Regions from separate parts of the Homo sapiens genome. Here region 1 is linked to region 2. The links come from fine-mapping of genetic effects on plasma protein levels. A gene starts in region 2. The other region holds a variant in brackets. All regions are shown on one strand. Distances are between the middles of the regions.

The links. A credible set is the group of variants that fine-mapping cannot tell apart. PIP is the posterior inclusion probability: the model's chance that the variant is causal. The UK Biobank Pharma Proteomics Project read protein levels with antibody pairs (Olink). The fine-mapping took linkage between variants from a reference panel, not from the people measured, so its PIPs are less certain.
Region 1: its variant is the best candidate, but not a certain one, in a credible set for the plasma level of the SRPX protein (UK Biobank, PIP 0.53).

The regions. Positions count from the first base shown.
Region 1 is chrX:38,175,144-38,180,520 of GRCh38, forward strand. SRPX (sushi repeat containing protein X-linked) reads right to left here. Exons shown (of 10, transcript NM_006307.5): 2 at 3,142-3,201. Among named protein-coding and RNA genes, the nearest start is that of SRPX, 43 kb to the right of the region's middle. The variant G/A (reference allele first, on the strand shown) is at 1,941.
Region 2 is chrX:38,218,444-38,223,820 of GRCh38, forward strand. SRPX (sushi repeat containing protein X-linked) reads right to left here and starts at 2,428. Exons shown (of 10, transcript NM_006307.5): 1 at 2,253-2,428. The coding sequence starts at 2,349. LOC124905176 (a long non-coding RNA gene) reads left to right here and starts at 2,465. Exons shown (of 2, transcript XR_007068212.1): 1 at 2,465-3,356; 2 at 4,979-5,249.

The sequences.
Region 1 (5,377 bases), 43 kb before region 2:
ATAAGGGCAACACTAGCTCCTTGGTGGATAAGTTCCTACAGCAGCCACTGCCCCATTGTCCCACAATTGATGGGGAACAGTGAGGAGTTCCCTAAAGCCTGCCGGGCTCTCAATGCCATGAATAGGAGCCACTTCCCTGCAACTGCCTGGCTCATCACTCCAACCCAGCACCTGAGCTGTCAGTGAGTGAGGTAAGACCGCCATCATGTGGCCAGGAAGGAGGACAGACCCTGTTTTACTTTCCCAGGAATTCTCTTCTGAGGATATGCCTCCAACTGCTTCTCAGTTACAAAAACCAACAGTTCTGGCCACGTCTTATGCATAGACCACTGTTTTAGTTTTGCCTTCACATTTCCTTCAGCTAATACTTTCTCTTTTTTTTTTCTTTTTTAGAAACAGGGTCTCACTCTGTCACCCAGGCTGGAGTGTAGTGGCATGATCATTGCTCACTGCAGTCTCGGCCTCCTAGGCTCAAGTGATCCTCCTGTCTCAGCTTCCCAAGTAGCTGGAACTACAGGCACGCACCACCGTCCCTGGTCTGGCTAATACTTTCGTCATATCATGTTTTGCAGACAGCTGCAAGTGAGCCCTAAACTCAAGACTCAAGTAATCTTCCCTGGACTTTCTAGGTAAAGGTGATGTCCTAAAGGCTTAACCTAGAGCTGATTAAATTTAACCATGTGGATATAAACGTGTAGGAGCTCACACAAGGCCTAAAGAACTTCCTTGAATAAATTTTCCTTCCTCTAAGGGTTTTAATATAATCTGTATGTACTACATATATTTGTGATATACAGTACTCCCCCTTTGCCCACGGGGGATATTGGATGCCTGAAGCCTTGGATAGTACCTAACGCTATATATACTGTTTGTTTCTTACACAAACATACCTATGATGAAGTTTAATTTATAAATTAGGCATGATAAAAGATTAACAACAACTAATAATAATATAGAACAATTATAACAATATACTGTAATGAAAGTTAGGTGAATGTACTGTCTCTCTCTCAAAATATCTAATATTTTGGGGCTGCGGTTGACTGAAGGTAAATGGAACCTTGGAAAGTGAAACCGCAGATAAGGGGGAACTAATGTATGTATATATATGACCTGCATACTCATACATCACAAACTCACTCAATTAATATGAATATATGATGGTATTCCAAGCAAAAGAATCAAAAGCCATGCTTGCCACATACCAGGAGCACCGTAAATGTTGGTTACATTTAATTTTCTTTCTTATTTTACTTTAATTCAAAAACACTTACTCTGTGCTGGACATTGTGCAGGGGCCTCAGGATCTAAAACTAAACCCTCACTTAATAATGGCTTGTCTCTAGCTTTTAAAATTAAAAAAACTTGGCCAGGTGCAGTGGCTCACGCCTGTAATCCCAGCACTTTGGGAGGCCAAGGTGGGTGGATCACCTGAGGTTAGGAGTTCGAGACCAGCCTGGCCAACATAGTGAAACCCCTGTCTGTACTAAAAATGCAACATTAGCTGGGTGTGGTGGCGTGTGCCTGTAGTCCCAGCTACCTGGGAGGCTAAGATAGGAGAATCGCTTGAACCTGGGAGGCGGATGTTACAGTGAGCCAAGATCACGCCACTGCACTACAGCCTGGGTGACAGGGTGAGACTCCATCTCAAAAAATAATAATAAAAATAAATAAAACTTAAATTTTATTGTATGAAGCGCACAACATGATGCTTTGATATACTTATACATACTGAAATGATTGCTACCAGTAAGCAATTTAACTGACAATAGAAACAATGCCCTAAGAAAATTTATTCTTAAACATTCAGGGTAAGTTCTAGGGCAAGCACACATTTTGGCCATCTGGTCTACCTGTCACATTTGCAATGCTGTGAGGTGAAGATGGATGTGAAGAACAAGGACCTGAGGGCACTAGGCAACCCCTGCTGTAGATGTGAA[G/A]GGTCATCTGTGCATGCATGTGTTTTAGGAAGATTTTTCAACAAGGGACTCAAAGAAAAAAAAATCTAAACCCATAAATAGTTAAGAAGTTTTGCGAATTAGAACCTTTCCTTACCCCAAGCATCTGATTAACGTATTTGTGCTTTGCTTGATTGGTTAATTCCTGAGGCTATGGAGATAGAAACTATAGGTAGGAATGAGTATTTGCATTCAGATCTCACAAAAAAATGTGGTATGTGATGGGAAGCACACCTGCACATAAGCACCAGGCACCAGTCATTATATTGGAAATATTGTTCACTTGTGTAGAAAACAACTGAAGGACATCTCCAGTCAAAAGTTGTCCAGTCCTACCCTGATTCTCCTGTATCTGAGACACATCACAACAAACAAGGGCCATGTCCTCATCCCAGGAATTAGGACAAATTTCCAGGGCAAAATGCCGCAGTGAAACTTTGTTAACCATTTTTTTTTTTTTTTCAAATTCTTCCTCCACTGTAAGAGGAACTAGATTCAGAGAGAAAGCATCTCTAAATTTACCTTCATTTCTCCCAGGTTTCCCTAAGCTTCAGAGAAATGTTTCACCAGTAGAAATATTTGTGGACATACTTACCTGAGTCTGGACAGAAGGTTCTTGTTTAGGCTTTTTATACGTGCTGGGGAGTGGATTGCTGGGAATATGTAGAGATGGAGTTCTTTATCATTAAGTTTCATTTGAGCAACATACTTTAACATACCGTTTCAGAAGCCATGCTGGGCTCAGAAAGAGCACGATGAAATGAGCTTATGAAAATCAAGTTTTCTCCTTCCCCATTCATCTTAGTACATTATCAGCACTTGGTCCAGATTTGACCTTAGGTGGTTTACTCTGGATGATTCTGGCTGTAATGTATGAATTAGGCTTGATTTTCACTTTCATCAGCTACAGCTGCCTTTGCAGAAGTGAGGACAGTAAAGAAACTTATGAGAATAAAATGACCATTGGGATGCTGAAAGACAGCATTTCAGAGATTTCCAATGCATTTTGCTTTATTTCCTTTTTTAAAAAAGGGAGTATATATATATATTTTTTTTTCCTTGATAGATAATTAGAACTTAAATGTGTTGTCTGGTCACTTTATTACAATCTGTTTCACAAGGCAAAAAGGAAAGTTCTCCTGGCACCAGCAGGTCCTCATTAGCACATAAGCAAAGCATTCACCTTTATATCTAGGGTGTGAATACCCGACTTCATCGTCTTCTAGTGGTGAGTCTCCCGATCCTACAATAAAAAAGAACAGAAACTGCAGCAAGAAAAGCCACATAGTATGGACGCATATTTCAAAGCATTCCTTTGCCACAGACCATGCAGGAGGTGCTATTAGAATGCAGAGCCAAGAGCAAAAGCTTCTGTGGCCATTCATGAAGGAACAAACAGGAGATCTCTCAGAGTGAAACCGGCTGAGCTGAGATTGCCAAAAACCAAGCAAAATGAGCCTCAAACTGTTTTGGAATCACCATATGCCAAGTGAAATTCTGGAATAGGGAAACAGAGAGAGTCAACTTCACTCTGAGAAGATGCCAATGTATATGAATCTCATGCCAGGGGAGATGCAATAAAATGTGTGCATCAGACACAGTCCACAGTTTCCCCAGCAGTCAAAGAAAACCCAGTAGAACTGGGTGTTTATGGTACCTGAAAACAGGTCCATCTTGTGAAATAAATTTAAATGCAAGATAAGGAGGTAAATCAAATGTCTTATCTTGACAAAAGAAACACAAAGTTGCTTCTATATACAGCATTTGTAGGAAATGAAGGCTGAAATAGACTATCTGTGTGCTTATTTAGAACCTCTCATGAACGTATGGCTCAAGTAAAATTTCTTTTTTTTTTTTTTTTTTTGAGACGGAGTCTCACTCTGTTGCTAGGCTGGAGTGCAATGGTGTGATTTTGGCTCACCGCAACCTCCGCCTCTTGGGTTCAAGGGATTCTCCTGCCTCGGCCTCCTGAATAGCTGGAATTACAGGCATGTGCCACCATGCCTGGCTAATTTTGTATTTTTAGTAGAGACGGGATTTCTCCATGTTGGTCAGGCTGGTCGCGAACTCCCGACCTCAGATGATCTGCCCGCCTCGGCCTCACAAAGTGCTGGGATTACAGGCGTGAGCCACCGTGCCCAGCCAGTAAAATTTCTTAATGAGCGTTGCTACCAATAAAAACCACGGCCTCAGAGAGAACGTCTGTGTATTATTTTAATTTAACTCATTTGCAAGCTGGAGCTGAATGGTTTTTAAAATATTAAATATTGAATTCCAGTGAGCAGTAAATCCTTAATCCTTGAAGTGGTAGCAGATGCCAAACTTCAAAACTGTAATCTTAAATTCAGAGAACTTCCCTCCAGACTTCACAGTCTAATTAATGACTCGAGTTAGCTCTGTCTTGGTCACGCATTTAGTTGTAGTTACTTGCCACCATAACAGACAAGAACATCCTCCACTGTGAGGTTATTCAAATCCCCATGCAGCTAATGAGTAATGGTCCCTGTTCCACTTGTGTTCTGGATGAGAGATGTAGAGTGTGGAAACTGAAAGTGGAGAGGAGATGAGGGCTGGACTGTGTTCATTAGGAAAAGACCCGCAACTACAGAAGCCCAATTCTGTATTTTCCTTTGCTGCAGATTTCCTCACCTTGTCTCTGCACACCCAGATGTGTACAAAATTACAAACTATTCATCATTGCATATAAAAAAATGAGCACTGGAACCAGACACAGTGGCTCATGCCTGTAATCTCAGAAACTAGGGAGGCTGAGTGGGAGAATTACTTGAGCCCAGGAGTTCAAAAAACAGCCTGGATAACATAGTGAGAACCCATCTCAAAAACAAAACAAAACAAAAAACAATGAAAACCAGGAAACCTACCTAACAACATGAATCAAAGGCCTATGCTCAAACCCTTTGATCAAGTCATTCCACTTCTAGGAATCTACCCAAGGAAACAGTTGAACTGCATGTCTGCATGTGAACCTTCAATCATCCAAATTAAAAAAAAATCCAGATACATGAGCAGCAAGCTTTCTCCCCCCGCCCAGCCCTCCAACACACATATACACACATACATATATTTTGCCCTCGGTTGTCATCCTGGTTAACTTGTCTACAGTATTTACAGCATTTAGTATGAATGACTACCCATTCATTTCATGAAGCTCTCTTCTGCAGTGGCTTCCAAATGACAACAGTTTCCCGATTTTCTTCCTCCTTTCTAAACAGACTCTCTGGACAGCACATCTAGATCAGCCTGCCATTTGGACATAAGTATTTCCCAGGAGTCCAGTATTGGTCCTTTACATATCTCCAGACTATTTTCCTGGGCCATCTCACTCCCATACTTGCCTCAAACCATTCCCCATGTACTGATGATAAATCCATTGTTTCTAGCCTTGAACTGTCTCCTAA
Region 2 (5,377 bases):
AAAATAGATCAGAGAGCCAGAAAAGCTGCATTAAATTCTAAGATGGAAGAACTCCAGAGACCTTCTAGGAGTGGGAATGAGAATGATTTACTCTCACTCTGACAGATGTGCTATTCACGTGCAGATAGTTACATAATCGACTTGCTGATGGAGCCCTAGATCTCCATCTTCTTTCAGAAGTTCCAGATTCAAGTCCTTCACTTTCTCTCTTACTGAAGATATGATGTCCACTTGCTAAGAGAGTGTCTCTGAAATGATCTTTAAAATTTGTCACCCAGCACTTAGAGTGAACTCAGCCTATGTGATTTGCTTTCAGACCCAAGGGCCTAGAGATTTTCCCCTCCCCAGCCTTCCAAAGCCTCTGGCTTGGACTGAAATCCCCTCCTCTGGATCTCACAACCTCAGCGGAGCACACTTCCCAAGAGACCCCATTGAGCCATGCCAAAAGGAGGCTCAAGAGGAGTGTTTATCAAGCAGCTCCAATCAGCTTCAGCTCATTTGTGGTCTGAGCAGAGCCGGAGGGCAGGTTAGGAGTCAGTGGAGGTGGTGGCAAGCAGGAACATGGTGGCTAAAAGTTGGGAGCAGCTTGCAGGCTGGCAGAGGGAGCCAGGAAAGCCAGGGATAGGTCCCAAAAGACAGGTGGTAGTGAATGCCCAAACTGGCGAACTCATGATTCTGTGGCTGGGCCCTGGTAGCAAGCTGTACTATATAAAGGTGGAAGATGAGAGAAAGGAGAGGGGAGGGCAGGGGAGGAGAACGGAGGGAGGTCGGATGGAAAAGGAGAAGGGGTCCCCAGCTTGAGAAAGGCTCAACTAAAAGTTGAGGTTCCCAGGCAGCTCACAGGCACCTCCCAACTCAGTGCGGAAAAGCTACCTCTAGCTTCTCACCTTATTTGCCCGCTCCCAGAAAGCTGCTTCTGGGACGCTTAATGACTTCCTCTTCCCCTACAGGTTCATTTTAACCTGATTCCTGCTAAAGGGGGTGGGAGAGGAGGTATTAACACACCATGGGAATAACAGTTGCCTGGCAGTAAGGATAAAATTTCCTTTCCACTTTACCCTGAATCAGTTCCTACAAAGCAGCTTAAAACTTAAGAGTCAGCTCAAAACACAAATGTTCCTGTTTATTAATTTACAAATTTGTTCTATTCATTCATTTATTTAGGTGCGTGCAGAGAATTTCCCGCAGCCATCCCTACATCTCCCAAGCACACTGCTAGAAAGATGGGCATCCTCTATCCTTCTACCAGAACTCAGTAGGTTCATTTCTCATACCCTAGATTTAAGCTGCCCACGGTGTTGAACGCAGAGCCAAATATTTGCACGCCCTATAGCCGACGTCACCCACTTTCCCATTAACACTAAATTAAAACGCATCCATGGATTTCCTCTCCATTCCGAGGCAACAGGAGTGCATGGCACATTGCCCTACTCCCCTGAAGCTCTTCGCTAACCTAAGACTCCAGGGTGAGGAAGTTAGCTGGAGCTTTTTAAAGTGCATCTCCAAAGAGAATTTTGCTCACACCATGAGAGCCCCCAAGAAACACCAGGGCCCCCTTAGATGCCGGAGACCACGCCCTCCAGGAATAAGCCGCACCCTCTGCCCAGCAGATCCTTGCGCGAGTAGCCCTCTTTCCCTGGGGCTAATCAAGTGCATGCCACATGTCACCACTCTCAGCTGGCAATTCTTCCTCAGAGGCGCAGACTTTCTCGGAATCCCCAGCAGGGGGGGTTAAGAGATTCAGGGGAGGCCCCGCCCGTGCCTTCCACAAAAGTCGCTTTACCGTGGCTCGTGTCCTGCGGCCCCAAGGGGGTAGCCTGGGACGTGTAGTGGGAGGGCATAGAGGCTCCTTCCAGGACAAGCTGCCAGCCTCCAGTGGGCAACCATGTGAGAGGCAAAATTCTGGGGGTGAGAAAGTAGCAAACTAGTCTGCGGCCAAACTTTCTCTGTGGAGCCTCCTACACCGAAAAGGGTTTGATTGGAACTCTGGAAGCCCGGACGCAGAAGGTGCTAGGGCTCCCGTCGCCGCGAGGGCGCCCCGCGCCTGGAGATGGGATGGTCAGTTCTTCCCGGCGCGTGCCCAGACACCAGCCCCGATCCGCATCATCCCCACCCTCGGGCTGCGAAAGAGGAGTTCTGCGCAAACAAAGGGCGCCCCCGGCACCTCCCTCTATCCCGAGCGAAGGGTCCCAACGGCGACTCCGGGGGTCTTTGGTGCCCAGCTGAGGAGGCAGCCACGCCTCCGATCCTACCTGGGAAGCTGCGGCTGGGCGGGACGCGCAGCAGCAGCAGCAGCAGCAGAGGCGGCAGCAGCAGCAGCAGCGCGGGCCGATGTGCGGGGCTCCCCATGGCGAGCGGGCGCTTAGCTCGCCTCGGCAGCGCAGCGCGCTTCCCGGGGGCGGCAGGAGACCGAAGAGACCAAGGGACTGCGTGCTAGCGGGCGGGCGAAGGCCGGGCTGGAAAACTCCTCCTCTCGCCTCTTTCCCTCCCTCCTTCCTGCCTGGGGCCTGCCCTCCTTTCTCCGCCCCCCCTGGAACACTGCGCGGTTCGGGGCTCTGACCCACCCACCTCCTCCTTTTGTGCCAGCGCTTTTTCTGGCCAGAGAGCGCTGGAGACAAGCCCCAGCAGAGCGAAATATCCTGAAGTAGCTTTCTTTGCCCCAATTTGCGCGCCCCCTCACCCGGAATACACACACGGTATTCAATACAACCGCCTCGAACATCCCAGACGTCTAGAAGGATACCATCTGTGCAGAAAGCTGCGTGAGTCACACGGAAACAGAAGGGGCAACCGAGGGGATTCAGAGTGGCCCACTGCGGCCGGATACTATGGCCATGTTCTCTGTTTTGATCCTCACGACCATGCCCCAAGTTCGCTATTACCATGTCCACTTTCTCCAATAAGACACCGACGCTTAGAAACTTGCCCAGATTCACCCCCGTTACTGGCAGAGCAGGGACTGGAACTTAGGTGTGTAGTTCTGCCGACGTCAAAGTCCATACTACAGATTTTTTGTTAGTTTGTTTCTCTTTTGCAAAGGAATAAATCAAGGACTGGACCGGGTGCGTGCCTGCTCTGCTGCGGTTTAGGATGGGGCTTGAGGTTCTCCTTCCAGGATCAGCTGATGGGAGAGCACAAGGCACAGAAAGTTCTCTGTCTCACCCACAGCCATGGGGATCCAGCTGTAGGTTCCTGCAGCCAGATTTCCTCATTTCCTGGGTTGTTCTCAACCACCCCAAAGATACCACGACCAGACTGGAGCCTCTTCCCTGTGGCTTGGCATCGCTGGATCCTGGCATCAGGACAGGGTTTCTAGGCTGCCCGCAGGACGGATCTGGTTTCTTTGAGGCATTTGAGTAAGCCTCTCATAGTTTTGTTTGTTTGTTTGTTGTTTTGGTTGTTTAGTTCTTGTTAAATCAGTAAGGCAATACGTTGCCCCTTTGCTGTCTCAGAAAGATCTTAGCTAAGGCAAATTTTAGTTGGAGTTGCTGCATTAGGTTGTGCAGTTTGGGCACTGTACAAAGGCATCCAGAGGAAGGGGCAAGTGGGAGCCAAAATCCAAATGCCTTTGGGTTCAGGGAGCTTTGCGTCTTGGCAGGGGCCACATCCACTAGAAGGGCATCTTTCTCTCTGCCACAGTAGTCTGGTCTGATAGCTAGGCTAAGAGCCCTGGGGGCACTCACCTAGAAGTTCTGAATTTGTTTATCCAGAAGGAGTGCCATTTCCCAATTCTCACAAAAGCCCCAGACTTGAACGTCCATCTTACCCTCTCTAGCACTTGGGGGGACTTCGCTCCATCTCCTGTGGGTTTCTCCACTGCTGCTACCTCTTCAGGGAACCAACAACCCTTAAATAACCCCCTAGTCGCAAGGAAATGGGGGAGGTCAGTCTATTCTGTGGCCTCCATCAGACCAGACTTTCCAGGGAGTCATTCTCAACCTTGTTTATGTGGGTCACCTGGGGAGCTTCATGAAAATACCATATCCAGGCTCTACCTCACACTAATAAAATCAGAATCTTTAGGAATGTGACCTGGAGTTTGACCAGATGCATATTTTTGTCTCTCCCCAATCCGCTAAGCTCCACGGTATAAGTTTTAGTATAGGATAAAAATTCTAGACCAGGAGTTTCTCAACTTGGGCACTATTGATATTTGGGGCTAGATGATTCTTTCTTGGGGAGGGGGACTGCCTTGCACGTTGAGAGATGCATCGATGGCCTCTATGCAACAGATACCACTAGCAATCCCCCTTTCCCCAGTTATGGCAGCCAAAAAAATGTCTCCAGACATTGCCAAATGTCCCCCAGGGGAAAAATGCCCCCAATAGAGAACTACTTCTTTAGGTCTGTAAACAAGGGTTAATGTGCACCCCAAATTCCAGGTCCAGGATAGCCTGGCCAGCAGCCTTCCTTTCCTATGTCACCTCTGAAGCAATGTGTCTTCACCACAACCAGTATACATTCTATTACTGGGCTGAGAAGGAACTTCTAGCTCACTTCTATCCACTGATTCTGGCTGGATTACAAGAAACACCACACTTACTGTTGACTTGCTCTCTGGCCTTTGAATGTCCTCACCACAAAGAAAGAAATCAGAAATGGATGAGGTGATGGTCACGCAAAATACTGACTTGACGCTTGGTGCAGTGGCTCATGATTGTAATCCCAGCACTTTGGGAGGCCAAGGTAGGCGGATCACTTGAGGTCAAGAGTTTGAGACCAGCCTGGCCAATATAGTGAAACCCCATCTCTACTAAAAATACAAAAATTAGCCGGGAGTGGTGGCACACACCTGTAGTCCCAGCTACTCGGGAGGCCAAGGCAGGAGAATCACTTGAACCTGGGAGGCAGAGGTTGTGCCACTGCACTCCAGACTGGGCAACAGAGCTAGACTCCATCTCAAAAAAAAAAATACTGACTTGATTTTTTCTTTTTCTTTTTCTTTTCTTTCTTTCTTTTTTTTTTTTTTCTTTGACAGGGTCTTATTCTGAATTTGAATTTGTTTATCCAGAAGGAGTGCTGTTTCCTGGCTGGAGTGCAGTGGCATGATCATAGCTCATTGCAGCCTCAAACACCTGTGCTCAAGCAATTCTCCTGCCTCAGCTTCCTGAGTAGCTAGGACTACAAGCATGTGCCACCATGGCCAGCTAAGTGTTTTTTGTAGATATGGGGGTCCCATAAATATGTACATTTACAATGTGTCCATTAAAAAAATAAACAAAAATAAAAGACTTGAAGAAACATCTCTATATAATGTTTACAGAGAAAAATAACATTTGTTGTTTTCATTGTGCAAGGATATCTTGAAGGACAGATCCAAGTTCAGTTGCCTCTTGTATCAATAAATCGAAATAACCCTTTCATTTTTACCTAACAA